2 linked regions of the Homo sapiens genome follow. The protein of the gene in region 1 interacts with the protein of each later gene in a biochemical or structural test. Each region holds a gene or a part of one and is shown on either strand. Other genes may lie near its edges. The genes, in order: KSR2 and PJA2.

Evidence for each region.
Region 2: the proteins of KSR2 (region 1) and PJA2 form a complex in vitro, tested with the Homo sapiens proteins (one study listed by BioGRID).

The regions. Positions count from the first base shown.
Region 1 is NC_000012.12:117,449,958-117,466,199, reverse strand, and holds the end of KSR2 (kinase suppressor of Ras 2), read left to right. Parts: 3' UTR 1-13,188; downstream 13,189-16,242. UniProt on the Homo sapiens protein: Location-regulated scaffold connecting MEK to RAF. Has very low protein kinase activity and can phosphorylate MAP2K1 at several Ser and Thr residues with very low efficiency (in vitro).
Region 2 is NC_000005.10:109,368,238-109,384,479, forward strand, and holds part of PJA2 (E3 ubiquitin-protein ligase Praja-2), read right to left. Parts: intron 15,284-16,242; 5' UTR 15,197-15,283; coding exon 15,166-15,196; intron 13,467-15,165; coding exon 13,266-13,466; intron 11,018-13,265; coding exon 9,967-11,017; intron 510-9,966; coding exon 324-509; intron 1-323.

The sequences.
Region 1 (16,242 bases):
TGGGTTATGTGGCTGTACCTATGATAACACGTTTGCAAAAGATTTCCCTGCCTGTCACCCTTGAGGAGTCCTGTTGGGGGAGCACAAAGGGAGGATGTTTGTTACACTTCTGCGTTCTTTGCTCTAGCCTGGTGCGGGGTCCTCAAGTAGCTTCCCCATCGGAAGCCTGTGTCCCTCACCTGTGTGTGTTCCCTCAGTGCCCCACCTTCCCTCCCTCCTCTTGATCCCAACCTGGGCCGGCGACTCTTCCTGACCATGTTGGGGAAGCCCCTGGTGTTCTGTATCTGTAGGAAGGATGCCGAGAGCAGGCTGGGCATGCAGATGGGAGAGGAGAACCTCTGGGTCATTTGCCCATGTTTTCAAAGCCCTGACCCCCTGCATGTGACCTGATACAAAAGGGAAATCTGTCCCCAAGCAGAGCAATAGCAGGATTATCTGGGCAGTGAACAGGAAGCCCAGGGCGGCCACAGCCCCTCTGTGTTTCCTGGGTACTACCTGGGCCTTAGTTTTCTTGTAGCTACTATCTATCCAGGCATCTCCCTCCTAGAGGGCCAGAGAGAGGAACTGGAACTTCAAAAACCCTACCTGATCTTACTTTCAAAATCCAAATAGACCTATGAGGATCTCTTCCCCACCTTGGGTGACTCCCAGACTGGTTCATGCTCTGGGGGCCAAACCTGCTTCCAAACCGGGAAGAATGGTGAGATCAGTCATGCTTCCCAGGAGCCTGGCTACAGGAAACCCCTGTGTTTCCCAAAGGGCCCTCCTGAATTGCCTTTCCAACACTCCCAGCTTACTGGGACTAGAGGACTAAAGACCCCGGCTTGGGCTGCTCCTAAGCAGACACTGCTCTTCTGGGGACATCTATGGCTCTTGGCTTGACGACGTGTGTGTGTCTTGGAGGCATTTTATATATGTTTGCCTGAGCCCCAGCCACTCTGGGGTTGCTGGGGATGGCTCTTGTCAATGGACACCTCCCCATCCCAACACAACACTCTGTGTCCCAGCCCTGGGCCTGGACTTGCACCTGTCTTGGCTCTGCCCAGCAGCCTACTGAGTGCCTGAAACCCAACCACTCACTTCTCTTCCATCACACCAGGACTTCTTGGGTCCACAGGCTCCAGTCCTTGTCATGTTCCCTTGTGCCAAGAGACAGGATATGAGGAAGGGAAGAGGCAGCCAGGGTCTACTACCCTGCAGCTGAAATGTCCACAAGAACTGGCACCTTCTCACTCTTGCCTCTCTTGTTTCCAGAATTAACTAAAATGTCCAACCACAGCCTTTGGCAAGGCCTAGCATGATCTCCAACAGCTGATTTTTCCATTCATTCATGAGCACCAGTTTGGGATTAAGGACAGGGCCTGAGTGATCCAGGGGAAAACCCAGCCCTTTGTGGAACAGGGTGCCTTGGGTCCATCCCTGAATCTGAGTCACTTGCTCTTGACTTCTCGATCTTTCCCCACTTCACTACTCTGTCCCCACCTGCATTGGTCTCTGCTGCAGCCAGGCCAGGATCCTGGCCTTCAGTGCCTTCCTGACGCCCCTACCCTGTCCCCTCTACACCGCCCTGACTTGTTGAGAAACCAGCTTTAATTTGCACACATTTAAATCCAGGAAGAACCAAACCGCTGCTTTCCCTGCTGGCTTCCATCTTTATTCGCTGATGAGGTTTTGGGAGGAGGTTATATTCATCTTACGCAGGGAGGAAAAAAAAAGAGGAAAGAGGCTGTATATTTTTACATCATAATTACCAGCCTCACCTGCAACTCATTCTATACAATGACACGACCAAGATTTGTGTGTTTGCCCTTGTCCCATCACAGCTGCACACAGGTGCCCTGTACACATAAGTCACTGACTCAGCAGCGAGTTGTTCCAGTCAGTCTTGCTTTTAGCAAACCGTCATATACATGGGCTTCCCGAGGGGACCAGTCCACAGGGTGAAGATTCACCAGGAAGCCTTGGCTTTGCAGAGAGAAACATCTCAGCTTTCTTTAAAGGGCATGTGGATTTGCACATAAATTTCACCCAACTCTTCCAGGATACAGATTATTCATAAAACCAAGGAGCTTCCTTCTTGGCCCCCTGTGGGAGGACGTGCCCCTTGTGTCCCCATCCCCAGAGCCAAGCTGGAAACCCAAAGTCATTGCTTAGATCCATTTTGTCCTGGTATTCCTTTTACTGATCAAAGAGAAAATTTTCATCTTGCCATGGACCCCCCCATCCTCACCCCATCCACTTGTCTCCACAGCTACCTTGGATTGTCAGTCAATAGAAGCCCTTGACTGATATTGACCACTAGACTTTTGTATCCAGGGAACCTAGTTCTTCCCTTTTTCTCACCTCCCATGCCATATACACACATCATGCCCCTCCCCACAAACACACGAAACCAGCCTTATCTCACCTTCCACCATTCCCATCCCCACCTACAGCTGATCATCAAAGGTACACGGAGGAAGTAGTAGACACGGAGCTCAGGCCAATCATTATCTTGAGAAATCTAAACCCAGGGCTGTCAGGCTATGCCCCATAGGCCATACCCAGCCTGCCAAATGGTTTTTACATGTTTTAATTGAGGAAAAATCAAAAGAATAATATTTCATGACATGAAAATTCTATAACATTCAAATTTCATGTCAATAAACAAAATGTTATTGGAGCACAGTCACCTCTCCATTTACACAACCACGGCTGCTCCTATGCAACTGTGACAGAGCCAGCTATTTGCAACAGAGACGATGTGGCCCACACAGTCAAAAACTTTTACAATCTGGCCCTTTCCTAACTTTGCTAGCCTTTGATAGAGAGGATTGGATATGGCTGTCAGGGGAGGAACAGGAGCCTTTGATAGAGAGGGTTGGATATGGCTCTCAGGGGAGGAACAGGAAGTTGGAGGGGGAGAGAACTTGTTTCAGCGGAAGAAGGCCAGCTTGCCCCAAGATGCAGCGGGCTGCCTCCGGAAGTAGAGAACTCCCTGTCCTTGGATAGGGTGGAGCAGATGTTGACTGCTTGGCCTGTGTGATATGGAGGCAATTCAGGCCCTGAAGGCTGGACCAACTCCCTGGACTTTAAAACTCTTCGTTTGCTAAGGGGGGCCATAATAACAAAATGTCACACACTGAGTGGCTTAAACAACACGAATTTATTCCTCACAATTCTTGAGGCTGGAAGTCCCAAGATCAAGGTGTCAGCAGGGTTGGTTTCTGGTGAGGCCTCTTTCTTTGGCTTGCAGACAGCTGCCCTCTGATCGTGACCTCACGTGGCCTTTCCTCTGTGACTGCACATCCCCAGTATCTCCTCCTCTTCTGATAAAGACAACAATCTTATTAGATTAGGGTTCCAACGCTCTGTGATTTTATTCCCATCCCCGGCTTTCTTTCCCCACACTGGTTCTCAATCTTGAGTCCCGAAATATGCCCTCCCTATCCTCATCCTGTGCCTACCTTCACTTCACCCATCCATCCCCTGCAGGCTGGTCTTGTTCCACTGTGCCACCATATCCCCAAGCCCCCCTCACCTCCGTGAGGCTCCTAGGACTGCTGCAGCAAACCACCACCCACTGGGGCCTACAACAACAGATGTATCATCTCTCACCCATCTGGATGCCAGAAGTCCAAAATCAAAGTGTTAGCAGGGCCATGTTCCCCCTGAAATCTGTAAGGGAATCCTTCCTGGCGGCTTCTGAATTCCTGGTGCTTTCCTGGTCATCATTGGCATTCCTTGGCTTGCAGCTGTGTCAGTCCAATCCCTGCCCTCATCATCTCTCTGTGTGTCCCTATCTTCATATGGCCATCTTCTTATAAGGACACGAGTCACATTGGATTAAGGGCCCACCCTATTTCAGTATGACCTCATCTTAACTAATTATATCTGCAAAGACCCTCTCTCCAAATGAAGTCTCATTCTGAGGTACTAGGAATGAGGACTTCAACATGTCTTTTTTTTTTTTTTTTTTTTTTTGTTGGGGACACCACAACTTATAACACCCTCTAAGACATTTTCTCTTGTGCCTTGACTGGTCCTCCACTGTAGAACCCAGGTGCCCTTGAAGATAGATTCCCCAGAATTCCTGGTCTACAAGGTCAGGCTGTTGCTGTCATGCTTACCAAGCTTGCCCCAATCAACACGTCCCATCACTGAATTCCAACAGCTCTGGATCTCAGTTCTGTGGCTGTATGGGAACAGCCTGTGTGTAAGTGGCTTGTCTGTAGCGGACTGTCACTTGACCCCTGAATGTGCCTCATGACCCTATCCAAAGCAGTTGGTGACACAGCATCTGATTTTATCTATACTCTTGTTCATTGACAAAGGAGTGGATTTTGATGAGCTACATTTTGCTGTTTCCTTTTTTGGCTTTGCCTGTGATGTGGGGAAGTTCCTAGGCAGACTCATGTGGCCACTCTCCCTGGCTCCCAGCCTCACCTCCTCCCGTACCACCTCACCCTCACCTGCACACACCTGCAAGGGAATCACTTTGAACTCCAAGGGGAGTGACAGGCAGCAAATGTCAGTCTGGGTCCTGGAATGTGGAGCCGCAGTGAACCTCTGTCCTCTCTGGTCAGTGCCTGACTATGATATTAACCCAAATCCCAGACTCCCTTCTCGAGGCCCTGCAATCCATACCCATTCTGTTACCAGTTTAGTTTTGAAACCAGTAGTGGGGCAGGAGGTTGATGGAAAATCTGCGGTCCCAGTGACCTCCTGGACTTGTCTTAGTAGTGCCTGGCACATAGTAAGTGCTCAAGAAATGTTTACAGAATGCAGACAGAGAGGTTTGCTGGGTAAGAGTAAGACCCTGGCACAGGGAGTTAGAAGGGCACCATTGGCAGGGCTGGATGGTATTGGGATTCCCCTTTGCCAGACCATGTTGTGGGTGCCATATCAACCCCAATGAGTTTGTTTGTTAGGTTTGTTGTTGTGGTTTAGAGTTAGAGTCTTGCTCTGTCACCCAGGCTGGAGTACAGCGTGATCATAGCTCACTGCAGCCTCGAACTCCTGGCCACAAGCAATCCTCCCACCTTAGCCTCTCAAGTTGCTGGTACTACAGGTGCACACCATCATGCCTGGCTAATTTTTTATTTGTTGTACAGACAGGGTCTTGCTATGTTGCCCGCGCTGGTCTTGAACTCCTGGTCTCAAGCAATCCCCCTGCTTCAGCCTCCCAAAGCACTGGGATTACAGGGCTAAGCCATTGTGCTGAGCCAGTTTGCCAGGTTTAATATCTGTGACGTATGAAGCGACCCATTGAGTCAGGTGGCCCAGGATGTCTAGGAGGCAGAGTAACAATCCACCCTGAACAGCCCTCATTCACAGAGCACTTACTACGTGCCAGGCTGGAATTCCTATGATGGTTTGGGGAGATCAGTAGTCTTATTCTCGTTCCAATGGGGCAACTGTGGTACAGGGACAGAAACCAGCCTCCAAATTGCAGACCCAGCATTTTAAAAACGAGTCTTTGGGCTCATCCATTCCCAGGAACCCACCTCCAGGTCAAGGGGTTCATGTCCAGCTGCTCATGGGGATGTTACAATCCCAGCCTCTGAGACTTATTGGCAACTTGGAACCAGGAAAGAGAGAGAGGAAAAGCAGGAAGTTGTGGAAGGGAGGGTGCAGGGGCTGGCAGGGACCATACTGGGAGTTTGCACGGAAGCTTGAACTTATGTTCTCAAACTGACAGGCTGCCAGCAGCAGCCCGGATTTCCAGGAAATGTACATCTGGGTTGGCAGAGTCCCTCCTGGGTCCCTCCAGTATCCCTGCTCCAGGCTTCCTATCCCCTCCGTCTCTCCTGCTGGATGTTGCACTGTGGTCCCGTGTTCCTGAGAGGCGTACATCAGTGAGTGCTCTTCCCTCTCAGGGGTGGGAAAGGGCCCTTCCTTCCCACTCATTGGGATCATGCAGCTCCCATTTCCTAACACCAAGAATATGAAGGATTCATCTCATGGGGTTGAGAATGGCTGTCCTCCTTCCACTGAGGACTGAGCTGGAGGAGATGGACTCTGTCTAGAATGTGCCTGATCTAAATAAGACCTTGTTTCCCAAGCATGTCCCATAGACCTTTCATTCCATGGAAAACTCGCCGGATTTGCATTATTGAAAGGGTCCTGGGACAAGCATGCATTGGAAATGCTTAGGTAAAATGAAACTAATTTCTTGATTGCAGGACTTATCAGAACTTTTAAGACACTATTGTGTGGTTGAATCTCTAAATGCCTGATAGGAGGCTGTTCTTCCCAAGCTTTCCCAGGCTTGTTTCTGAATCTCCAACAAGGTCAACCTCTGTGAATGAGACTTGATACCTTACCTGGTACTGAAGGAGGCAATGTCAATGTACTGGCCCACAGAAAAGAGCTGACCACTAGCATTCATAGACACTGCTAGGAGATGAGAAAGGTAGCTTAGAGCCCGATTCCATCCATGTGGACAGTGGTTCCATGAACAAGAACACCACATCTGGCTGATGGTGTCTTCCAATGGAGGGGTCAAATCTGCTGTGTGTTGGTGGCTTCTCCAACATACCATGGCTTGGAGGCCAATGTGAAAAGTATATAAGATGTAACACCCTCAGAAGGGTTAAGTTTTCACCTGAGTTTTCATCTTCAACCAAGTCATTGGGATGGTGATCTAGAAGGACCTCTAAGATCTAGAAGGATAAAGATCTGGTCCAAGGAGTACAAATATGTAATGGATCTACCACCAGTGTCCCCTGCTGTACTCTTGGCAGACATCACTAATCCATCACAGCATGCCTTCCCACTGATCACAGATGTAGCTTCAGGGCATTCGAGTTACCACTTAAGATGGATATGAGTGACCCTCCCTTATCTCACTCTTCTCCTTTCACAGAAGCAGGATCTGAGGCCCAGAGAGGGAAGCTATAATAAACTCCCCTAAGTCAGGTCCCTTCTAAGAGGCAGAGGTAGGTTTAGAACTCAGGCCTCAGAAACTTCCAGAAGCCAAGCCATTTGGGCTGTAGTTGGTGGACAGTCTATCAGCGCTCTGCAGATGTTTCTTCTCAGTTAGGGAACTTGGAAAATGCAGAAAGAAAGATTCTGTCTCTAAGACTCTGTGTATGATCCTACTCGGTAATCTGCCTGCTTGGAGAAAAATCATTTATCTTCTGGGACGGCTTCACCACAAGGCCTGAATGCTATGCCCAGTCTAGTAACAGCTGGGCTGGAAGTCACGGCATATGGGGGCCTTAAGGAATAACAGTGTGCGTGGTGGTGTGCAGGAGAGCTGCAAGGGCTTTTCTTTCTTGAGGAGGTTTGTAAAATTTCTGCTGTTCAGTCTGGGCTTCTGGGAAGTCAGGGGGTGCTGCATATAAAGGGCAGGAAAAGGAGCCTGACTCCAATTGCTCTTTGGTTTCTTCCCTGAATGGAAGGCTCAAAATCAAGTTTCCACCCAGATAAGATCTTGAGGTCCTAGTGGACCACCAGCTCTACTCCTGAGCTCTTGAAATACCTCTAATCACCAGCTCGGTGGCTGAGAGTACCTTCTTGTCCACTGCCTCTTCTTTTCCTTCTCGTCTTCACTTATCCCCCATCCAACTTCTGCCCGATAATATCTCCCCTGTATTGTAAACTGAGGAGAAAGTTGCACAATTGTAGAGATGAAAAATAGCTGCCATGTATTTAGCTTAAATTAGCTCAGAAGAAAGGCTCCCTCCCTCCATTGAGCGGGCAGCACTTGTTTATGCCAACATGCTATTTGCATCGCGCCTTCTTAAATTTGAAAGTCTAATGATTAAAAACAAATCTTAGTTTTTCTTTTCCACCACTTAAAAAAAAAAAACCAGCTTGGCTAGTTCTTCTAGTTTAAAAATACCCTGACCTCCAGCACTACAGTGAGAATTTTGGAAAGGCTGGTACCAGGATATCAGGAGGAAATAAATACAGGCCAACAATAACCAGAGGCCTTTTCTGAGTGGTGGGCGACAGGATGAACAAGGTAGAAGAGAGGTCTTTGTGTCCTCACACAGATGCTGGCATTCTGGGTTTGTCTGGAATTCAGTGAACCTCTGTCCTCTCTGACAGAGATTTCTTCACCAACCATTCATTCAGTGGGTGATTTGTTGAGCATCTACTATGTGTTAGACCCTGGGCATTCAGTGATGAGTGATACAATGTCTCACCTGTTCTGAAGCCTAAAGCCCAATGGGGAAGAGAGACAAGAAGCAAGTCAACCACAAATATATAAATTTGCAACTCATGTAGATCTATGGAAAGAAAACTCACGGGGGACCAGAAACATGGGAGAGGGTATACTGTGGGAGAGCTGCTGACAAAGGTCTTTCTGAGGAGGTGACATTTAAGTCAAGATCTAAAGGAAGAGAAGGATAAAGAGATGTTCATTCTAAGCCAGGGTTTCTCAACCTCAGTACTGTTGAGCTATTTGGGGCCAGATAATTCTTTGAGGTGGCGACTGTCCTGGGCATTGGAGGATGTTAAGCAGCTTCCTCAACTCTCCCCACAAGATACCAGTAGCACCTGGTACTGGTGACATCCAAAAACATCCCCAGACACACCCTGACTTTGCTGTCTGGAATCAATCCTCATAAAGCCCCAAGCCTTGGAGCACAGAGGCTGGAAGCCCATATGGTGGCATGTCAGGCATGGTGTCACCTGAGCTTCTCTGACCCCCACTTCTGATATGGCATCCAGTTTGGAGTCTCTGTTCTCCATGAGCTCCCATAGCTGTCCCATATTCCACAAGGCATTGCTTCTGGGCCACGGTCCTCTAGTTCCAGCATAGCCCTATTTTTGGGTATGTTGGTGGATTTCAAAAGCCTCCAGTTGACATCCAAAGTGTGACATCCAAAACCATCTCCAGACATTGCCAGATGTCCCCTGAGTTGTCTCCAGGCCACGCGACTAGGATTCAAATCCAGCATCCTGCCATCTGCAACCTTCCATGGGAGAAAGGAAATCAGAGGAGAACAGGAAAACACAAGGAGGGGACTCCTTAAGTGAACATTGCAGGGAAATAGGTTTTTAAAGCACTAGTTAGCATCACCAGTGGTTTGAAGGCTGTCTAGGTAAGGAGAATGTGGACTTGCCTTTCACCGTCTGCACGGACAGGGGCTGAAATCTCCAGTCATTCTCTCCATCCTTCCACAGCCCTTCTAAGAAGCAGATCCTCTTGCTGAGCTGAAATCTTGAGACTTGCATCCGGCAATCTTGGTGTTGCTTTCTGAGGCTACTCAGGGAAAGCCCTTCTGTATTCCCCAGGAAGGAAAGTCTCCCAGATAGTGAAGGGCCTTTTCTACCTTCCTTGCAATTCCCAGTTCACTGTGAAGAAGAGAGTCAGGCCGGGTTAGAATGGCTGTCTCTGGTAGCAATGAAGCAACAACATAGACAGTCTGGACAAGATGTGGCAGTTCTGTCCAGTCCCGTGTGACTGATTTGGGCATGGAGACAGGCAGTGGGTGAGGATGGCCTCTGTAGGTCCAGCTGTTTTACCCCTAGAATCAAATCCCTGGAGCTTCCGGCAGTCCCAGGATTGGGAAGGGTAACAGAGAGGACGAGTCGGGCACTGCAAAAGACCAGATCTTGGAAAATTGCTTTGGGAATTGGGACACCTTCCAAGAAGACAGTTGAGTTGGCTGGGGCTCTGCCCTAGATGGGGTCAACCTCTCCCCAACACAGCCCTGCCCAGGTTGGGGCATTGGCAGCTTAAGTGCGTCCTGGACAACAAATGTAATGTATTGGTCCTGTAAGATTCTAGCCATTTTCCTCTGCTTATTTTTCTACATGTGTTACAAGTAATAATGTTTAGATGGGTACATATGAACTTGTGTAAGTTCAAGTAACTGCTATGTAGCTACAGCATGGGCATCAAGGTACTCTAAGGTACTTGCCCTGCCACACCGAGGCCCCCTGCCCCGGCCCCCTTTCCCTCCTAGCCAGCCTTCTAGGGAGCACTGCACACCCTGCCCCTTCAAAGCTATCTGGACAGTCCTGGCTCGACTGGAGCATTAAGGGAGGGGCTGTCCTTGGTCAGGCTTCTGCCCAACTGTGTGATGCATAAATCTTTGCCTGGCTCCTTCTTCCTTCTTTTCGGAAGTCTATCTCCTCCTGAGGGCCTCTGCGGTCCTAACCTATCAAGGAATATCATAGATTGTACTCCCCACCCCATCAAAACACACCCTGACTTTGCGTCTGGAATCAATCCTCATAAAGCCCCAAGGCTTGGAGCACAGAGGCCAGAAGCCCATATGGTGGCATGTCAGGCATGCTGTCACATGAGCTTCTCTGACTCCACTTCCAAGATGGCATCCAATTTGGAGTCTCTGTTCTCCATGAGCTCCCATAGCTGTCCCATATTCCACAAGGCACTGCTTCTGGGCCCCGGTCCTCTAGTTTCCTCATAGCCCTATTTTTGGGTACATTGGTGGATTTCAAATGCCTACAGTTGAGCAGCCGAAGGATTCTAAGAAAATTTTGCTTGTATTTCAAAGGCTCATGTCCCCAGCCCCATTCACTACACCCTCAGCAGAGCCCAGCGTGGAGCAACCTTGTCCCTTCATTCCCCAAATCTTCATTTTATATAGTCATTTAGTAAATATTTGTTAAGTGCCTCCTGTGATTCTGGAAAAAATGGAGAAAAGTGGGTGCTGCCTTCAGGGTACTAGGAGTCCGATGAAGAGAGGGAGGAGTTCCAGTAGGGTCCCGAGGCCCCACAGGAGCTCCCAACCCAGAGAAAGACCCTCCAGGAAGGATTCTCAGAGGAGGAGACTTCTGAACCCTGTCTTGAAATTTGAGTAGAATGGTAGGGAACGGTGTGTCAGACAGAAGGAACAGCCTATGTGTGGACTCAGAGGCAAGATCATGATTTATTGAGGGTAACTGCAAGTGGCTAAAATCCTGCCCCCTGGCACTTGCCTGCCTTTCCCTGCTTTCCCCAAAGCCTGATTTTGGGACCCTGGAGTCTCCATCTCCAAACAGAGGGTGCCCTGGCTCAGATGTGGAGACCTTGACTTCTTTCCCCAGCATGCTCTGGTTCCTACTGTTAGCCTTGGTGTCCTGTGGGGGAAGATGTCTGAGGAGAGTTTTGTGCTTGCTGGAGTCAGACCAGTACTCAGGCCACCTCAGGCCTGCTCTGCATCCCTCTCTGGCTCTACAGACCTCTCTCTCTCTCTCTCTCTCTCTCTCTCTCTCTCTCTGTCTGTCTGTCTCTGTGTCTGTCTCTGTCTCTGCCTGCCTCCACACAGTGAAGGATGTGTCTCTATTTCTTAGTGCCCTGCATTGGGTCCTGAAGTCCATGGGCATCTTGGCTATAGATGGGTTGGCCATGAGCCCTTCTCTCTAATGCATTTTTCATTCCTGTTCCTCTTTTGCTTCACTTTCCCTCTATCGACTCTTGCGACCTGTGTCTCTGATGTCTCTGGGGCCCCCAGTTCTGTCTTGCCATACCAAAAAACCTTCTTCAGCAAAAAACCTCTTTCTGGGACAGTTCATATCACTCTATGAATAGGCCCCTGAAGTGTTGAGGTCAAGGACATGTGTGAACGTGGAAATGTATTTATGGAAAGACCCTACACTGAGGGTCTCTAACTAAACATTTCAGGTATGATGGGCAAAATGCTGGTTTGTTACAGAAATGACTGAAGAAGACCTAGGGGCCATAGTGGGCCACAGGCCAAGCCTGCAATACAGCCTGAAGTGTGGGAAAGAATGTATCAGTCCTGTTGATGGAGTGGTGTGTTTGCTGTCTCTATAAATATGTCAGGGTTTGAAAGACAGAAAACAAAGCATCTTTGCTGACCGCCAGACTCCCAGGGTATATGTGGCTACTGCAAATTAGCGAGGCTTGTTTATCTGCTTCAACTTGACTCAATTTGCATTTCTTGAGCCACTGTCTATTGTGGATAATGATTTCATCAACACTTTCTCAGCATCAGCAGCCCCTCCAGAGTATTCCTTGAATTTTCTTAGCTTTGTGCAACCCACGAGCACTTAATATATCACTAACCCTTGAGTTTATTGGAGGGAGTGAATGAAATAATGAATGTCAATAACGTTACGCAATACCTGGCACACAGTAGGTGCTTCATCAATGTGGCTTTTCTTCTCAATCACCCAAATGAACCTCCCCCAGAATCCCACCTCTAGGGGGACATTCCTGAAAAATAAGGGACTAGAATAGCGAGGTGGTGGGTGTTACCCATTTATTTAGATATTTGTGTCCTGGTGAACATGGGGAGGGATGCCCAAGTGTCATAAGGACACCCCCTCCCCCCGTCTACAAGGCAGAGGTCTCTTAGGATGTGAGAGAGTCTCTGGCAAGACCAGCCCCCACCCCACCAAGGCCCTCATAGAAACAGAACATTCTTCCTCCCTATCCCAAAGCAGAAGTTGACTGGGGCAGATAAGGCAAGTCACATTACATCTGTGCCCTTGACCATACCTGGACCAGGCAGAGAAGATCCCAGACTTAGGTGGTCAACGTTTCCACCCCAAGCCTCTCATTTCTCGCTCTCTTTGAGACTTGATCTTGTACCAGGATCCACTCGACAGACTTAACGCATGATTAATTTGATTGATTACTCTTGAAGTTACTGACCTTAGGAAAATTCCTCAATTGTAAAAAGGCTTTCTCTATATGTAAATTATGCTGTTATCTTTTTCTATACACAAAGTATATAGACCTATAAATATTATACATATATATTATATATATAAAGACTAATTCTTGTACAGACCAACGCGGACCGATGGTCCATATTCTTTTCTCCATGTTTGTTTGTGTCGACTGTTGCAGAGTGAGTTGATGTAAGAAGGTGGTTTCATGTTTTCTTTTGGGGGGCCACTTCTTTCTTTTCCTTTCCGTTTCTATCTCTGTCTGTCTCCGTCTCTGTCTCTCTCTTTCTCACTTGTTGCCAATGTCTTGTTGCTGAGAAGGAACACTCTATTCAGATGCCATCCAGGAAAGAAAGGCCAGATGGATGGAGGGTCCACTGTGTATATTTGTACAGAATCATTTATAAAGTTTTCTACACTTCTAAAAAAAGTATTTCTAACTTGGGCTGTTGGACAGTTTGTGTGCCTCTGAGCCAGCAAGCCTGTTGTTTCTTGTGTTTAGTGCAATGTTTAGTGAGAAACCAATGTCTGAATTATTTATGCCAATAAAAAATTTGAGAATTACTGCATTGCACTACTGCCAAGACAGGTCTGAATTCTATTGTTGTCTGTTGTACAGAAAGAAGCTTGAATTATGACATTGGCCATTGTATCAGCCAGCTATCACCACGGTAATGCTGTGTAACAAGCCTCCCCCAAACTCCATAGCTTACAACAGCTAACATTTATCCTCGTGCTCGTGGGTCTGCGATTCTAGGTTGGGTTTACCTAAGAGGCTCCTCTTTAGGCTTCAGGTCAAGTTCAAGTCAGCTCCACATGTCTCCCTGTTTCAGGGGCCAGGCTGAAGAAGAAACTCCCTGGGGCATGCTCTTCCCATGAAAGATCATCAGAACATATGAGCCAAACAAGGCTGGGCATGATGGCTTAAGCCTGTAATCCCAGCACTTGGGGAGGCTGAGGCAGGCAGATTGCTTTAGCCCAGGAGTTTGAGACCAACCTGGGCAACATGGCGAAACCTCATCTCTACAAAAAAAAAAAAAAAAATTAGCCAGGTATGGCAGCAGTCACCTGTAGTCCCAGCTACTCAGGAAGCAGAAGTGGGAGGATCACTTGAGCCTGGGAAGTTGAGGCTTCAGTGAGCCATGATTGTGCCACTGCACTTCAGCCTGGGTGACAGAGCAAGACCCTGTCTCAAAAAAAAAAAAAAAAAAAAAAAAAAGCCAACCAGCCTGTAGAGACACATTCATGACATCATCTCAAACCATATGCACTAACATTTCATTGGGTCAAGCAAGTCAAATAACTGAGCCTTTCAATAGGACAGTATTGTAAACTCCACCCAGAGTGGGAGGGGGAAGGAAGTGAATGTTTCCTGCACCGTAATCCAAGTTATCACAGTCTGGCCAAGTATTCTTCCAGCCAGCCCGGCAAAAATGCATTCTCTCCCCTAGGGACAAATGCAGAAATTCGTCCGTGAATTCGTCGTGTGAATGCAGAAATATACACGGATGTGCACACAACTACAGCTCTCCACACTGAGCATGTGATCTGTGCCCAGATTAATCCCCACAACCACACAATTCCATTTTATAGATGTGAAGGCTGGGTGCAGAGGGATGAAGTAACTGGCCCACCCCAAGTTCAGAACCCAAAACTCATAGCCCTCTTGGGGCCACACACAGCATGATGGGCTTCTAAGTACCTTGGATTTTTAAAAGCCACTTTATAAAGTGCTTTTATGAAACAAGATCTCACCTGACCTGGAAAACCAGTGAGGCTGGGACTATTCAACTCATTCGACAGCAGAATAACTGAAGATGGAGAAACAGGCTATCCGGCAAATCTGACTGGAACTCCCAGGCCCCTCCCTTGAGGAGCTGCTGCTGAGAGATGGAAGAACTGGCCTCATCTGTCCTGGTAAGTTCTTCTCAGCATGCGCTGGAAGGGAGCAGACTGACAGGCTGGAGTCTAATTCTGTTAAATAGCACTGCCATATGCAAGCTATATTGCCCTGGCCAGGTCACTTAGCTGCTCTGAGCCTCCACTGTCTCATCTGTAAATGGGCATAATTATTGTACCTGTAGTACCTACCTCCCAGCGTTATGAGGCTTAGATGAATTAACATCAGTACTTGGAGCAGTGACCAGCACCCAGTAAGTGTTCTTAAATACATGAGTTGCTAGTTTGAATATTTATTGCTAGGCTGGGCGTGGTGGTTCACACCTATAATCCCAGCACTTTGGGAGGCCGAGGCAGGTGGGTCACTTGAACTTAGGAGGAGTTCAAGACTAGCCTGAGCAACATGGTGAAACCTTGTTTCTACTAAAAATACAAAAAAATTAGCCAGGCATGGTGGTGGGTGCCTGTGGTCCCAGCTGCTTGGTAGGCTGAGGCAAGAGGATCTCTTGAGCCTGGGAGGTGGAGGTTGCAGTGAGCCAAGATCGCATCACTGCACTCCAGCCTTGGCGACAGAGTGAGACTGTCTCAAAAAAAAAAAAAAAGAAAAAAGAAAAAAGAAAAGTATGACTGTGGTTCATTTCTAACATTAGTGCCTAAGGGCAAACTCCACGGTGAGTGACCGTCTGCACCCTAGAATGCAAATCTCTGCTGAGTTAACCCAGATCTGTCTCACCCTCAATCTCTCTCTCAGAGAACAGCAATTGGTATCTAGCACTGTAAACTTTTCGACACACCTTCACAAGCATGATTTCTTCCCACTTACCACGTTCAGATGGGGTGGGTGTATGAGTTGGCCCATTTTACACAAGGGGAAACTGAGGTTGCAAAAAGTGAAAGTCTCCTACAGTATCTGCATGTCTGTCCTGGGCTATCTCACTCAGACCAGCTGGGTGACCCAACTGGGCAATGACATCAACTGTCAGAACCTCAGTTTTTTTTTACTGTAGAATTGGGATAATAACTACATTCATTTCAGAGAGTTATGGTCAGGATTAAAAGCAGGTAAAACATGTAGCACAATTCCTGGCATAAACAATCAATACACATTAGCTATTTCAAGCCCAGATCTGACATTAATCTCTGGGAGAGTGTTGACGTGGGGAGGCGGTGTGAAACAATACCAGAACCTTCCATCCTCCTCTCTCCTTTTGCAGGCATAAGAGAAGGGGAAGAGTCTTTCCTGGGGCCTGGAACTAATTGATTATCCTGGTTCTGGCTTGTGGTCTTCTGTGGCCTTGGGGTCGCCATCAATCAGGCACAGCAGGTGCTGAGCTGAGTGAGGGAAACCTTGCGAGTAATCGGAACTAAACAGCTCATTAACCTCTGTGCACAGGCTTCAGGGCAAGTGCCTGGTAACCAGAAACACAGGCACAGATGAGGTGCCTGCCCAGCTGCCTGGGTAGCAGGGACAAGGCCTCTGAAACCCCTCTAGTCCTGGACTCCTCTTCACCTTTGCCCAGAATGAGACTCTCCAGAGCCCACCCACATCTCCCATCTCCCATCATTCAGTTCCCAGGAACAGTGCTAAGCACATTACATTTGTCATCTCACTTAACCCTTACCATGGTCCCATGCAGCAAATGCTATATTGTTCTTGTTATGCAGATGAAGCTCCTGAGGCTCAGAGAGGTTAAGTGACTTGCTCAGCATCACACAGTGGGAAGTGTGGAGCCAAGATTCATACCCAGACCATTTGAATCT
Region 2 (16,242 bases), on another chromosome or scaffold:
AGGCTGTCCTTTCTCCCTTGAGCAATGACAGTGCTAATTCACCCATTCCTAACTTAACCAAAATGACATTTTAGGTGCCCAACTTTTCTTATTAAAGCCAAGTGGAGACATATATTGTATCTCCATAAACGATACTGAAATTATCAGTATTTTCAACTTAATTGTTCTTTTTAAAATACCAAAAGCATAATGAAAAAATCAGGGGGGCCTACTGGTTCTACATAAGGCTTATAAATACAATTAATGGCATATCCAACATTTGAATGTAAAATATACCACTCTTGTACAATATACAGAAAAATAAATCTCACTGTTGAACATACCCTTCCTGAAGAGATAATTCTTGGTTTTCTTCTTCAGGGCCACTGCTATCACTTTGTAGCTCAGGTTCATTCTCATCTTTTCCTGGCAGAGTCTCCCAGCTTTCATCACTTGAGGATTGATCTTTTTCTGTACCAGAAAATCGATGAGGCAAAGAAGCAGACCATTCCCCATCACTGCATTCAGAACTGCAAATCAGAAGAGAAATAAACTATCATAATGTGTTCAGTTATTTTTATCATTTGGGGTGTTAACTAGATGATATGGTTTGGATCTGTGTCCCCACCAAATCTCATGTTGAACTGTAATCCAAAATGTTGGAGATGGGGCCTGGTGGGAGGTGACTGCATCATGGGGGTGTATCCTTCATAAGAGTTTAGCATTATCCCCTTGGTACTGTTCTTGTGATACTGAGTTTTCACCAGATCTGGTTGTTTAAAAGTGTGTGGCACCTCCCCCCTCATTCTTTCTTACACCTGCTCCTGCCAAGTGAGAAGCCTTGTTCCTGCTCTGCATTCCACCATGATTGGAAGCTTCCTGAGGCACCCCCAAGAAGCAGAAGCCACTATGCTTCCTGTACAGCCTGCTGAACTATGAACCAATTAAACCTCTTTTCTTTATAAATTACCCAGTCTCAGGTGTTTGTTTATAGCAATGCAAGGATGAACTAATACACCAGACATCATAGTATAGAGTGGAGTGTCGATGCCACATATGCTTTGTCAGGTGCTAATTCAATCTTCAGACTATTAAACAAATAAATGCATGCAGTAGAGTGTGACTCTTTGAAAAGAATATGGCATATGGCAAGTTATGGAATATATCACTTTACTTTTTCTTACACTACATCCATGGTACCTAGATAGGGGCTTGTCATATTTTAGACACATTTCTAAATAAATTTTTAAATACAATTTGGTAATCTTAAATGCTACCTGGAATAAATGTAAGTAGACTTACTGCATATCTAACATGACTAAAACAACTTTCAAATTATATACTGACAACTAATGACATATTTTCTATGAATAAATTTCTACTATTACCATGTAATAAAAAGTTAACTGTCTTTTTCCTTCCTTTTTCCCAAAGAACTTTTCAAGAAGTGACATTCAAATGCATAAAAAGCAGTACTGGCAAAACTTTACTGTCCTTAGGTAGCACTGTGAATACAAAATAAATTTCAGTTCAGGCCGGGCATGGTGGCTCACACCTATAAATCCCAGCACTTTGGGAGGCTGAGGTGGGCAGATCACCTGAGGTCGGGAGTTCGAGAGCAGCCTGACCAACATAGAGAAACTCCATCTCTACTAAAAATACAAAATTAGCTGGGCGTGGCGCTGCACGCCTGTAATCCCAGCTACTTGGGAGGCTGAGGCAGGAGTTCAGCTTGAACTTGGGAGGTGGAGGTTGCAGTGAGCAGAGATTGTGCCATCGCACTCCAGCCTGGGCAACAGGAGTGAAACTCCCTCTCAAAAAAAAAAAAAAAAAAAAAAAGCAGCACAGAAAATTACTTTTGATTACATTTAGCCAACTTGGTTACAATTAACTACTCTTAGTTTTTAAAGAATTAGTCCTCTTATGCTACCAAAGGCTAAAATATTACTTATCAATGTTGAAAATAAGTCTTAAATGCCCCCTCCAACCATATCAACCATTTTGGTTAAGAATCTCCTCAAAGATCTCTCTACGTTCACTAGACTTGGAAAATCAAAAATAACAATTTTAGTTTACATTTTTGAAAGGAAGTGATAATTGGTAGGAAATTACATTTTTTAATGATGATTATTATGTCAATACGCAGTTAGTGATTTCCTTTATTAACAGATGCACTCAAAAGATCAAGATGATATTAACAAACAGTAGCACTAATCTAAGCTCTGAGAAGTTTACTAGAAGCAAAGATATAAAATCAACTGCCAATTTCCAGTAAGCAATGGATGGCAGGGCATTAACATCCCGGAGAAGGAAAGCTATAAACCCTAGGCACAGCAACTAAAAGGTGTTCTTTCAGCTGGGTCTAAGCCAAAGTTCCTTGTATGCTGTACAATTTTCTGTGACCCAAAGAATAATCTAATATAAACAATTTCTAGACTTATATAAGTATTAAAATCCAACACAGAAAGTAGTTTTAAAGGAGCTTATTGACCTAAGTTTCCTTGAGTAAGAACCTTCTAAAATTCAAAGCTAAATTACCAACTCCTATTTTAATGTCTTTAACAATTAGGGTAAGATTTCTATATAAATTTGTGGCAATTCTTAACATATATAAAAGAGAAGCTCAGTTTTTAAAAAAAAATTTTCACTCAGAATATGATCCTGTCCAAAGAGATAACATTAAAAAGTCCTCACTTTTCCATATTAATCAAATAACTCATGGAATATCTCTAAACTTCAATACAAGAGGAATGTCTATGATCAATAATCAAGAAGCCTATGTTATGGATTGGCAAACTACTACAGGCTTGGGTTCAAACCTGACTCTGCTGCCTGTTTTTTAATGGTGTGTGAGCTAAAAATGGTTTTTACATGTTTATCTTTAATTTTGCCTCTTAGTCACCAAAGCCTAAAATATTTACCATCAGCTCCTTTAAGAAAAGGTTTGCAGACCCCACGCCTATATCATTATTACTCATGATACCTAACCCTCAATGCTAAGGAGACAACTTTTAAATGCATATCCCCAGCCAGCCCCAACCATCACACTAAGCTTTCGCAATCACTAACTACCCTCTAAGCATTTTAAGATTTTTCACCTTCCTTGTCAAAAATTCTATTATAAAATTAATCTGTCAGATGAATCCCTATCTTGATTTGTTATCTTTTAATGCTATCACCATGCTCTCATTCTGCAAACACTTATTTTTTGACTCTTCACAAACTCCCCACATTCAAATCCTTTCTTACTTTCCATTCTTTCTCTGCACAATGGCTCTTGTAGTCTTAGCTCCTTTTTCTCCGTTTCTCCTAAAATGTAAAACCCTAGTTCAAATGCTTTTCTCCAAATTAGACCTATATAGTCAATTATTAATTGGTGTTCCTAAATTTAATTCCACTCCCTCAAAATGCATTCTGAATACTACCATCACTTCAATTTACATATCAAACAGTATGTTTATAGTATTACTCCAAAAAACCTTCAACAGCTCTTTTTTCTAATGCTACTGCTTTAGTTTCACAAACAAGCCATTTGCCTATCACTCTCACAATTTTTGCTGCAGTTGCACATTAACCCTCTGTCTTAAGGTACGATAGTTGAGAATACAGGTCCTGGTCAGCTTGCCTGGAGTTAAACCCACCACTTATTAGCTATGAAAACCTCTCTATGCCTTTTTAGCCTCACATATCAGGTGAATACAACAACAGTATTTAATAGTTCACTGGGTTCATGTAAAGGGTAAGTGAGTTAATATATATAAAACATTTTCACAATGCCTGATAAATAATGAGCCATCAATAACTGTTAGCGAGTCTTTTTTTAACATTTTTTTAAACTCAAATACATTTAGTTAGGATAAGCAATAGCCATTAAGTCCTGAATTTGATGTGCTACCTATATTTTCTTAATTTCCATTAACATAAATACATAATGATTAAATTAAAAACATTGTGTACCACTTAATATATTTTACCCACTTTGGAAATAGTGACCTATAGAATAAAAAGTTAAATGTCTTTGAATAACACTTATAATTTACTGCTATCTGATCCCAGTACTTTCTTGCATCCAACTCAAGAATGCTCTATTTCAAACAGTGTCCTCAAAGTGGGCATTCTTGCCATCAGGAATATCTTTATAATCACTTCACCTTTTCCCCACTTCCAAACACAGATCAGACTCTATTTCTTTCAAGACCTTCCTGTATAAAATCGCTTCTTTTGTTTTTCAATTATTTCATGAACTAGACTTCTTGTTTACTCAGTGCAGCTCACTACAACACAGCTGCTTCTTTAACATTGCAATTATTTTTCATAATAGTGCAGAGAAATCAAAGAAAATGGGTACTGAGAAAAGACAAATGGATGTGGAAATCAGGAGGTCACCACTGACATTAAAGAATATAGGGCCGGGTGCAGTGGCTCATGCCTGTAATCCCAGCACTTTGGGAGGTTGAGGCAGGTGAATCACCTGAGGTCGGGAGCTCGAGACCAGCCTAAGCAACATGGAGAAAACTGGTCTCTACTAAAAATACAAAATTAGCTGGGTGTGGTGGCGCATGCCTGTAATCCCAGCTACTCAGGAGGCTGAGGCAGGAGAATCGCTTGAACCTGGGAGGTGGAGGTTGTGGTGAGCCAAGATGGTACCATTGCACTCCAGCCTTGGCAACTAGAGCAACACTCCGTCTCAAAAAAAAAAAAAAAAAAAAAGAAAGAAAGAAAAAAAAATTAGCCAGGCATGGTGGTGCACACCTGTAGTCCCAGCTACTCAGGAGGCTGAGGCAGGAGAATTGCTTGAACCCAGGAGGTGGAGGTTGCAGTGAGCTGAGATTGCACCGCTGCACTCCAGCCTAGGTGACAAAGCGAGACTGTCTCAATAAAAAAGAATACAGAAATAATATTAGGAATTAGATTTCAAGGCAGTAAGAAGAGTGGATAGTGACAGAATAGAGACAGTGGGTATGGAAAACTTTTTCTTAAAATTCAGCAGTAGAAAAGAAAACACAAACAGGCAAATAACAGAGCAAGAAAAAGTAAAGGTTTTCTTCAAGATTGAGAAAAACTCAAGGTTGAGAGACAGAGGGAAGCAACCTGTGAGTAAGGACAATTAGATGAAGTGTCAGAAATAACTAGAGGCACAGAATGAGAGGGGCTACCTCTCTTCATTGAAGAGGAAATTAAAAATACAAATAAATACTACTATCCCCTAATATGGAGAAGAGGAAAATAAGAAAATTCACATTTACATATTTTTAACTTCTACAGGAAAATAAGAAACGAAGCTAACCATTAGGAGTGACAGGAGTACATGGAAGGAAAAAAGGGAAAAGATTTAAAAATCACTTTTTAAGGAGTAAGCAACAGAACAAATAGGACACAAAAATGATCATGGAACAGTGAAGATCCATTTGTTCTAGATTTTAAAAGCGGGTGAATGACACATTTAAAAGTTCTCAAAGTAAAAACTAAATTAAGTACTACTTTGATCTTCATATGATCCTTCACTGGTACTGATCCCTTTTAGCACCTAAGAGTTGTATTTAAAAAGCAGACAACTATAATTTACTCAAATGTTACACTCTACACATTCAATTGTGAACTAAAAAAACTTGATATACAGAATGAAATTATAGACAAAATTTATGTACAAATCCTAGGCAGAAATAAGCTATGGAAACATAAAACCAACCAAAAGTAATCTCTCATTCCATAATTCCCCAAGGTACTTGTTACTTTGTTCTTCCTGGCATTTATCACAGCCACAAGAAACTCAACTACAGGAGCCTAGGAAAAAGTGAAATTTTAAATATTTTGTTATCTGACATAATCTAAACATTCTGGAACTTTTTACCACTATTAACACTGAACTGTAATGTAATACAGTGATATGAATGGATTATGTCCAAATATATAAGTCTGCTTAATTTCATTAAGATGGCTATGATTTTTGCATTGTGCCTGCTTTTTGTCACTTTCTGGTCTTTTTCCTTAGTATCAGGTTATTGTAATCCCATGAACTCCCTAGCATATCTGCAGAACAAACACATTTATACCTAATGTGCTCCTTCCAAACTTCTATGAACTTGAAAACAAGATAAAAAGGTTTGCTAAAATGTCAGCACATATGCTTTAAGATCTGTGCCTTGGCTGCATATAGATGTTTTATTTGTTGGGGGTAGTACCAAGTTCTCAGACAAACTCTTTCTTTGTGGCTCTCAGGTAACCTACACGGAACAGGAAAGGCGCTTAATTCAGCCTCACAATAATAAATACGTATATTTTGTCTTCTTCATAAAGCTAGTGAACCTTGTGGGAACAGGGACCATTATGATTTGTATTAACAGGGCACCTGGAACAAAGTCTGGCACTTAAGATTTCAACAAATCCTTTAATATATCATATTGAAGTCAACTAAATGGCTAACAATCATTTTATTTCCCAACATCATCAACAAAGTAAGTTGTCCCAACATTTTACCTTAAGTAAGGTTTTTAAATTTTAAGCAAAGTTAAGTCCTAAGGCCACAAAAATTCTGCAAGAAACCTCAAATGCTATAAGTAAGGAACAGACAGTAGATGGCATGCCTCTCTTCAGAGCAGTTAGGCCCAAGGTTAAGATATGCTAGTATTGCTGAAAGGTTTTTTTTAAACTCAAGATCTTGTCCTCAAACAGTTACTAAACTTCTCAGGGTATATTTCAAAAGAGCAGGGTATTAACCTTAGCTCTTTGGTCTAATTCTAAGTCTGGTAATTATATGCTGCCTATTAAAATTCCCCTTGGAATCCTAATTTAATAAGGTGGTGCTCAGTACCTGTCAAACAGCTCAGAGCAATGCTACTGGCTGCAATGTTTATCCCACAGAGTGTAACATTTCAGATGTGATTAAATGATCATTTAGAATTTTTCAGGGAAGAAGGCAATCATGAATTCATTAAAATACTTTTCTACTTAAAAAGAATATATAATTCATATTTTTAAAAAGTAGCCAAAATTCCTATATCTAAAAATGCTGGCCGGGTGCAGTGGCTCACGCCTGTAATCTTGACACTCTGGGAGGCTGAGGCGGGTGGATCACTTGAGGTCACAGGTTCAAGACCAGCATGACCAACATGGTGAAACCCCATCTCTACTAAAAATACAAAAATTAGCTGGGCATGATGGCATGCCTGTGGTCCCAGTTATTCAGAAGGCTGAGGCAGAAGAATCACTTGAACCTAGGAGGCAGAGGTTGCAGCGAGCCGAGATCACGCCACTGCACTCCAGCCTGGGCAACAGAGAGAAACTCTGTCTCGAAATAAATAAATAAAAAATAAAAAAATAAAAATGCCACAATGAACTTTAGTTATATTCTTGATGAGTTCTACTTTGGCTATTATAAGCATGACAAAAAAAAACTTTTCAAGTATATCAACTTTTTAAGCTTTACAAAAAAACTCAAAGTTCACAGGCCCAAATTAAGCAGCAGCTCTTATACTTTCCATCCAAAACCTGAGAAGACTAGCATCACCATCTCTCCAATCTACAAATACAAGAACTAGGGAGGATGACAATGAAACATCAGGGAGATGAACAAGGGCAAAATGAAACTAAATAGGAGTGTACAGCTATTAAATTCCAACCTTTAGCTGGCACCATATTAAAAAGGCACCCTGGCAACTATAATCCTTTGCAGGGAATTAGGGTAGAGGAACAGGACACAGCAGCATAGAAACAGAGTTTCTGTTCAGAAATAGAATAATCTGTACAGAAAACTGTACAGACACTTTGAGATCGTAAAACATATCTTAAGGCTATGGATAAAAATATAAGTACAGTCCTAGGCAGAACCATTATCCTTTAGAATTTATTCTATGATTCTTTAAAACAAAACGAAACAAGAAACTTTTAAGCATTTCAATGTGTCTTAAACAATGATCCTAAAGTAGTTCCATCATTTTGGCATACCCTAACCACAGGCTCTGTAGTCAATACATTACTAGCAATTTAAAAGGACAGTTTCTATTAACTGTAAATGTTTTTTCCCATCTATATATTGTTTGTAAAAAAAAAAAAAAAAAACTATCATTGTTCAGAATATTGACATCACTTAAGAAAAAAATTAAAAATAAGAATAAGAATTACAAATAACTAAGAAAATACCTTATAACTATGAAAAGTCCAGGGTCCTTCAAGGCAAAGAATACACTTCCACCACTGACCACCCCCAAAACAAAGAAAATCAATTTAAAATCAAGGAGCCAGGAAGACTACCTTTCTCTAGGGGTTGGCAAACAATGTAACAATTTCATCAACTTCATCATAAGACATTATAACTGACTATAAAAAGCAAGCAGAAGAGAAGTATTTATTTTGCCCAAAATGACAAAGGTATAGCCAAATTAAATGATTCTCCTTAAAGAAGAAAAAGTGTAACTGGGGGAAAAAAAATACAAGCACCTTACACTTTCAAAAAAATAAATTATCAAAGACTGTAAGTTTTGTCTTTTTTTAAAAATAGTAACCTAGAGGTATAATATTAGAGACTTGCAATCTATTTCAAAATCTTAGGGCTAAATGTGTTTTGGAATTTTGATATATATTTCCCAGATTTAGAACTACTACTTAACAAACCCCAACATGGTCCAGGCCACACACAGTAATCAAACATAACTATATTTCTGCAGTAAAATATACAAATATTTGAAAAAATACCCTCATTTCAATTCAGATCCAGATCTGCTTATCCAGGAAGTTAACATCAGGTCAGGCTTTGTGGCCAATTTCTGTTTTTAGAAGTGTGGATACTGAATAAAACACTGTGGGCTTGAACTGAAAAAAACTTTACCTTTAGCTTAAAAACAGTATATCATACAAAAATTACTTACTAACCCTTAAAGTTTACAGACTTTGACAGAGCAGCAGAAATTATATTTTAAATATTTTCTATAATAAATTACACAATCTGTATTATAGTAGCTTAATTCATATGTCCAAAGAAAATCAAATGAATTGTTTTATGACATGAATTAAAATGCATTCATATTCAAAATGGTAAATTTCTTCCTTTATAGTACTTTCTAACTAAAAAAAAACCACACAATTATTTCCACTAGCTAATAAAATCTTGCAATTGCACTGTAATTGAGCACTGTCAGGGATGCAACTAGCTTACAAGGACTCATGAAAATCTGGACACTGGGGTAATGGAAATTCAGCAACTGAACAAAGAAATTCTCCATTTTTTTCTTTTTCTGTTGTCTTATGGTTTGGAAAAAAAAGATACGGGTTTGTAAGAGCAATCAGAATGCTTATTATAAGTTTTATGTTCTGTTGAAAATAGCAAAGAATAGTGGTGAACAGTCTCTGGAATACCCAGTTAGGTACTCAAAGTCCAGCTCTACCATTAAGTTGCTCTGTGACCTTAGGAAGTTATATAATGCTCTGTGCCTCAGTTTCCTTATTTACAAATGAGGGAAATAATGGAATCTACCACACAGAGTTGTTAATGAGAATTGAATGCTAAGAAAAAATAAGTAAAAAATAAACTTAGTGATAGGAAGAGCCACAGGAAGAACAGATAAAGAGGGAAACAAGTGATATTAGTCACTACTGGCAATGTTAATGAAGTATTACCAATCAATAATTTGTGATATTAATCACTTTTTAAACCCAGACTGGCTTAATGTAGGTTTTTAAAAAATACAACAAATGTTTATTTTACATTTTATTAATTGAAATACCATGAACTAGCATCTCTATCCCTTTATAATAATAATCATTATCTGAACTTACTTCTGTAAACTACTAAAAACCTCAAAAACATTTTTTTGTGAAAAATTCTAATGAGTAGTTTGCATGTATGGTTAGCATTCAGTAAATAAAAATATTTGGTAAGTCAAAATGTCTAATTCCCTGATCATATCAAATAGCCCAGCCATCAAACATGGTTCTAGAAAGAAACCACTTCATTTACTACACAATCGGAAAAAGTACTGGATGTGACCTTACCTATCTTCATCTTTGTCATAGAGTTGGTAATAATCTCCACAGCCATTCCAAAAGGTGTTATCCACCTCTTGCCTTCCTGCTGTGGCTCCACTTTCTGATGTCATTTGGTTATTTTCTGTTTCCCTTTGTGTAATAACTCTTGAGTATGGTGGATCCAAGAACATACAGTCATGCTCTCCATCATATTCTTCACATTTTATTAAGAGGTCATCTGAGCCACTTTCCTCAACTTCCAAAGCCTCTCTCCATCTTTGAACACTTCTTTGTTTCGCCTCATGCCTATTAAAACCTGTTTCTTGGTCCACCTGGCTTGAACTTATCAGTTTTCTAACTTTTGGCCTCACTACCTGTTCAGGAGAACTTCCATGGTTCTTTTCCCTATCATTGGTATTTTGTTCACTACAAATATGCCCTGGACCACAGGCTGCATCTTCAGGTGAATGTTCTGTCTGTCTTTCCTGGCTAGTATTATTTTGTTGTTTCGTACTAACCATTTCATCTTGAGAAGACCTCTGAATTTCCTGGCTATTCTGATGGACAAACTCAGTATCACCAGCAGAACTTTTCACTAATGGTACAGAATCTAACTCTTCAAACTCATCTCTTACTTCACAGTTAAATGAGGGAACTGGTGGTGAAAGACCAGTGTATGCCTCTGCCTCTCTGTTTTCCAACTCAAATACTGTATTGCCTAATGATTCCTGGTATCTACTACCTTCCACGACTTCTGCAGAAAGTTGAAGATGGTCATTATCTTCTCCATGTTTGCCATCTGGATCATAAGAGTCTGTATGAACCAATGCAATTCCATTTTGGACACTTGAAGCACTACAAGCTCCTGGAATATACTCTCCCTCAGAGTGATTATGAAGATTTGTACTGCTTCCTAAGGTATCCCTGCCTTCCTCACTGTGATGTACTGCAACAAAGGATTGACTGCTCTCAGTGGTTTGATTCAATGCTGAACCACAAGTGGGAATTTCTGTTTCACTTTTTTCAAATATAGGTTCACTGGGTAAAGAAGAATCAACTTGATCCAAAGGACTGGAACCTTCATAAAAAACAAAAGAAAACATATTTTAAAGGATTAACTTAGATAAAATTTTATGTAATAACTATCACTTAAGTGGAAATCATACCAATTATTACTACTTGAATACATGAGTAAATTTATTTACCAAGCACTTCTATGCTCCTTAACTGAGAATGCAGACTGATTACTCTATGAGTTCATTTATGTCAATGTACAGCCTTTCACTATCATCTCCCTCACATGGCTTTGGCAGTTTTCTATCTAAATCCTAATATCTAATGCCTTCTGCAAGACATATAAAGGAGAAGCTCTTGAGAGGTTATACAATGGGAAGCCTCTCGTAAGTGGAGTCTAGGGTAACCAATCTGCTTCCCAGTGATTTCCAAACTTACCTTCTTTATTATATGCAGGTAAAAACAACAACAAAACAAAAAACCTTCAAAAGTACTTATGACAGATATAATAACTATAGTTACAGATTTAAGAGAAATTAGACCCTATTGTGTTTTGTTGGCAATTCACAAAATTATATCTCAGTATCTCGACAGATTATAAATTGAATTGTTGTAATACATTTGTAATAAGTTTACTTTAGATGTGTTATAGTTATGACTGAAAAACAACAAAGAGATCAATATGTTGATTCTTGTCATAATTGTGAGAATTCTGAAACATGAGTAAAATCATATCTATAAATTACTTTAAGCATAACTATCTTGCATCACCACTAATAAAAAAAATGAAGACATTTGAGATTTGCTGGAATAAAAATTCATGAATTGTAAAATAACTGAAGTTCGGCCATGATATATGGTACGAAGGGTTCTTTGATATATGGTACGAAGGGTTCTTTTTTTTTTTTTTTTTTTTTTTTTGAGACGGAGTCTTGCTCTGTGGCCCAGGCTGGAGTGCAGTGGCATGATCTCGGCTCACTGCAAGCTCCGCCTCCCAGGTTCACACCATTCTCCTGCCTCAGCCTCCCAAGTAGCTGGGAACGAAGGGTTCTTCAATGGGATGACCCTAGCTAGTAATTCAGATTCTTACATATGACAGCAAAAATAATCTAGAAATGTCTTGTCAAGTTTGCTTAGAACAAGAGGAAGAAGACAAATCCAGTCCAAAAATGTGCAATTATGGTACATGGATAGCTGCAAAATACTTTTTCAAAACCATTGAATAACTAAGAAATTTTAATTGAATAAGCCTTCCTTGTCCTTTGGATTTTGTAAAATGATGAAAAAATAAACAAGCCAAGTTAAATTTAGGATAAAATTAAAAGAAGAAAAGTTGGCCGGGCACAATGGCCCATGTCTGTAATCCCAGCACTTTGGGAGGCTGAGTTGGACGGACCACTTGAGGTCAGGAGTTCGAGACCAGCCTGGGCAACATGGCAAAACCCCATCTCTACCAAAAAATACAAAAATTAGGCGTGGAGGCGCATGCCTGTAGTCCCAGCTACTTGGGAGGCTGAGGCAGGAGAACCACTTGAACCCAGGAGGTGGAGGCTGCAGGGAGCCCAGATCACGTCACTGCACACCAGCCTGGATGACAAAGTAAGATTCCATCTCAAAAAAAAAAAAAAAAAAAGAACGCCAGGCATGGTGACTCACACCTGTAATCCCAGCACTTTGGGAAGCCAGCCAAGACAGGTGGATCACTTGAGAGGTCAGGAGTTTGAGATCAGCCTGGCCAACGTGGTGAAACCCTGTCTCTACTAAAAATACAAAAATTAGCTGGGTGCAGTGACAAACACCTGTAATCCCAGCTACTAAGGAGGCTGAGGCACAAGAATTGTTTGAACCTGGGAGATGGAGGTTGCAGTCAGCCAAGATGCACTACTGCAGTCCATCCTGGGCAACAGAACGTGACTCCATCTCAAAAAAAAAAAAAGAAGAAGAAGAAAAGTTATTTAAATATTATATGCAGGGAAAAAATATCTCTACTTGATCCACATTTTTAAAAATTTCAAAATATATCTTTTTGATTCAAAGATGATTTCCTTTGGCTGGAGGTTATGACAACGTAATCACTACTATGAGAGTGTGGTTATATTTTAATGATTGGCTGTATTCTATTTTCTTCTACAATGTTTAAATATATACACCATTAATATTAAATTCAATAAGAATTTCAAAATAGAATTTCTTGATAGGAAGTGTGCTGCATTTACACTCACAGACATGCATAATACCCACCCAAAAATTTAATTATAAGATCAATTCCTATATAACTATTAATAACCTTTAAATAATTAAATGTTACACACCTGAGGAATTTTCCTTTGGAACATCATCTAGTTCCAACACTTCATAGTCATCACCAGCCCGACCTAAGCTTCTTTCATGTCTGGTCATACATGGTTTAAAACTGACATAAGCATGTCTTCTTCCATATCTCCTGCCTGTAATTGTCTGATACCCTCCTGCTGGTTTGGGCCAGACAGCCTTACCAGATTCTTGGTCCATTGCTGAAAAAAAAGTTAAAAAATTAAAACAGGAACAGCAATGAGCTTTATTCTTGCAACCTGTTGGGGAAAACTACTTCAGTTTATATTTTATTATTTATCAAATCATATGCTTCTGAACATGAAGTGTACCTTACTAGTACTATAAAACATTATTCTTCACACACTAGAAAATTAAATATGAAGTACTATATAATAAGAGTTAGTGGCCTTTTCCCTTCAAAAAATATGTTTTAAAATTTGGTTTCTTTAAGGTATTTCAGATTTTTATAATGAAACCTATCAAAAAATATTTTTCATATGCCAAATTATTATACTGCCAAAGCTCTTTATGGGAGATCTTCCAAATTAAGTACCTTATATATTATATTAATATAAGTGCTCAATACATATTTGATGAATCAATTACTAGCATTATGATATGATGGTTTCAATTACTTTAAGAATGAAAACATTTATGTCAAAGATAACAAGTAACCTCTTTAAATGGTATCTGTACCATGAAGAATCAACTAGATCACAATAAATATGTTCCAAAGATTAACGTCAGATAAAACTATCCAAAAGAAAACAGCAATGAGCCAGGTCAAACACATACTACCCTGCCTTCAAAACTACCAATAAATGGTATATGTTATGGTAAGAAAAGCCATCAACATTTACATGACTTGACAATTAAGTTTTGTTGACTGAGGGGTATACAGTAGTAAACAGCAGCAACTTTCACTAAGTAGTACATTATTATACACACACATATATATATTAAGTGTAAGTCTGCTTAGTCAATTATACATTACATGTACTACACAGCAACTAAACAAAATATTTTCTCACAGCATATGGTATAGTCAATAAATGCAACAGTTGCTGGGCATGGTGGCTCATGCCTGTAATCCCGGTACTTTGGGAGGATGAGGCAGTCGGATCACTTGAGGCCAGGAGTTCGAGATCAGCCTAGCCAACATGGCGAAACCCCGTCTCTACTAAAAATACAAAAATTAGCCAGACGTGGTGGCACATGCCCATAATTCCAGCTACTCAGGAAGCTGAGGCATGAGAATCACTTGAACCCAGGAGGCGGAGGTTGCAGTGAGCCAAGACTGTGCCACTGCACTCCAGCTTGGGTGACAGTTCGAAACTCCATCTCAAAAAAAAAAAAAAAATGAATAAATGAATGAATGAAACAGTTACATAATTTCTTAGTTGTATTAAAATAAGAAATATAATCACTTCCAAGAAGGAAACAGAAACAAACATGTATTTATAATACACGCACATATCGAGTATAAATAATATCAAGTGTTACACTTATTTAATCCCATCAGTAATCTTGAGGTGGATATTGTATTCTATTTTAAAAATTGAAAAATTAAAGTTAAAATTAAGTGTTGGATAACTTGTCTAATAATCCAAAAGTATGACTCCAGAACCAATGCCCTTAACAATTCTACCAAAAGAATAGTCTCCGAAGTGGAAAGCATAAAGCTTTCCAAGCTAAATGGGTATGGAAAGAAAATACCAGAATTTCTATTTTTACCTATCAAAAATTAGAAACTAAGCTTTACAAATATTCAATATATGGATCAAAACCAGCCTTTTAGTAAGACCACAGGTCAGATGATCATATGTCACTTACTGGTACTCAAGGTACCCAGAGGAAAAAACAAGAAGTACTCAATGTAGAAGAACTGACTTTCCTTACCTGCTGGCTCCTTTTCAGTGTACTGTGACATATATGGCAGCGTCTGTGTGACCAGTTCAGTAGAATTATAGATGTGATTTAGTTTTTATTCACACTATGGACAAGCCGCAGAAGATTCCTACAAAGAAACAATGAATTGAACAATATATTAATAAAAGCACAAAAATAGCAAAACTGATACTTCTGCTCCTCCTAGTGAAGTCTTATAATAAAACTTAGAAAAATACAATGTGATGTAGCCAGCATGGTGGCAAATGCCTGTGATCCGCCTTAGATTACAGCACTTTGGCAGGCCAAGGCGAGCAAATCAGTTTGAGCTCAGGAATTCGAGAACAACCTGGCCAACATGGTGAAAGTCTGTCTCTGCAAGAAATACAAAAATTAGCCAGGCGTGGTGGTGCACACCTCTAGTCCCTCAGGAGGCTGTGGTGGGAGGATTGCTTGAGCCCAGGAGGTGGAGGCTGCAGTGAGCCGAGATCATGCCACTGCACTCCAGGCCTGGGTGACAAAGTGAGATCCCGTCCCAAAAATAAATAAAAACAAGAAAAATACAACACAATTTGACAAGCCAATCAAAAACTCTCAGAAATACCAAAATGGCTATGTGAAATACAGATTTACATCTGCTCTTGATAAACCTTGCCTAAGTATATATCATCCTTAAGACTGTCAATGACAACAACACATACATAATTTGTAAGTAAACAAACAAAAATATCAGAAGTACTGACTCAGGTATGTAACCAAACTATTTGGGAGTCTACTACACTGTGCTATCATTGCTTCTCTGTCAAGCAGTAAAGTTCCTTTAGCCCTGGAATTGCTAAAAGGTAACTGTAAGAATACAAACTTCATTTTTTAAAAATGTGTAATGGCTTATAACAATAATTAATGTGTGTAAATAATGATGTATTTATTCTTTGCAATAGTCAGTTGATCAGATAATTTAATCCCAAATAAGAACCTATTTTCAATCAGGAAAAACTACAATTTATCATGGAACAAATACAAAAAGAACTTCTGTTTTGAAATTAATGCATTTATTTACTATTTGAAAAGTACTATTTGAGAAGTTGC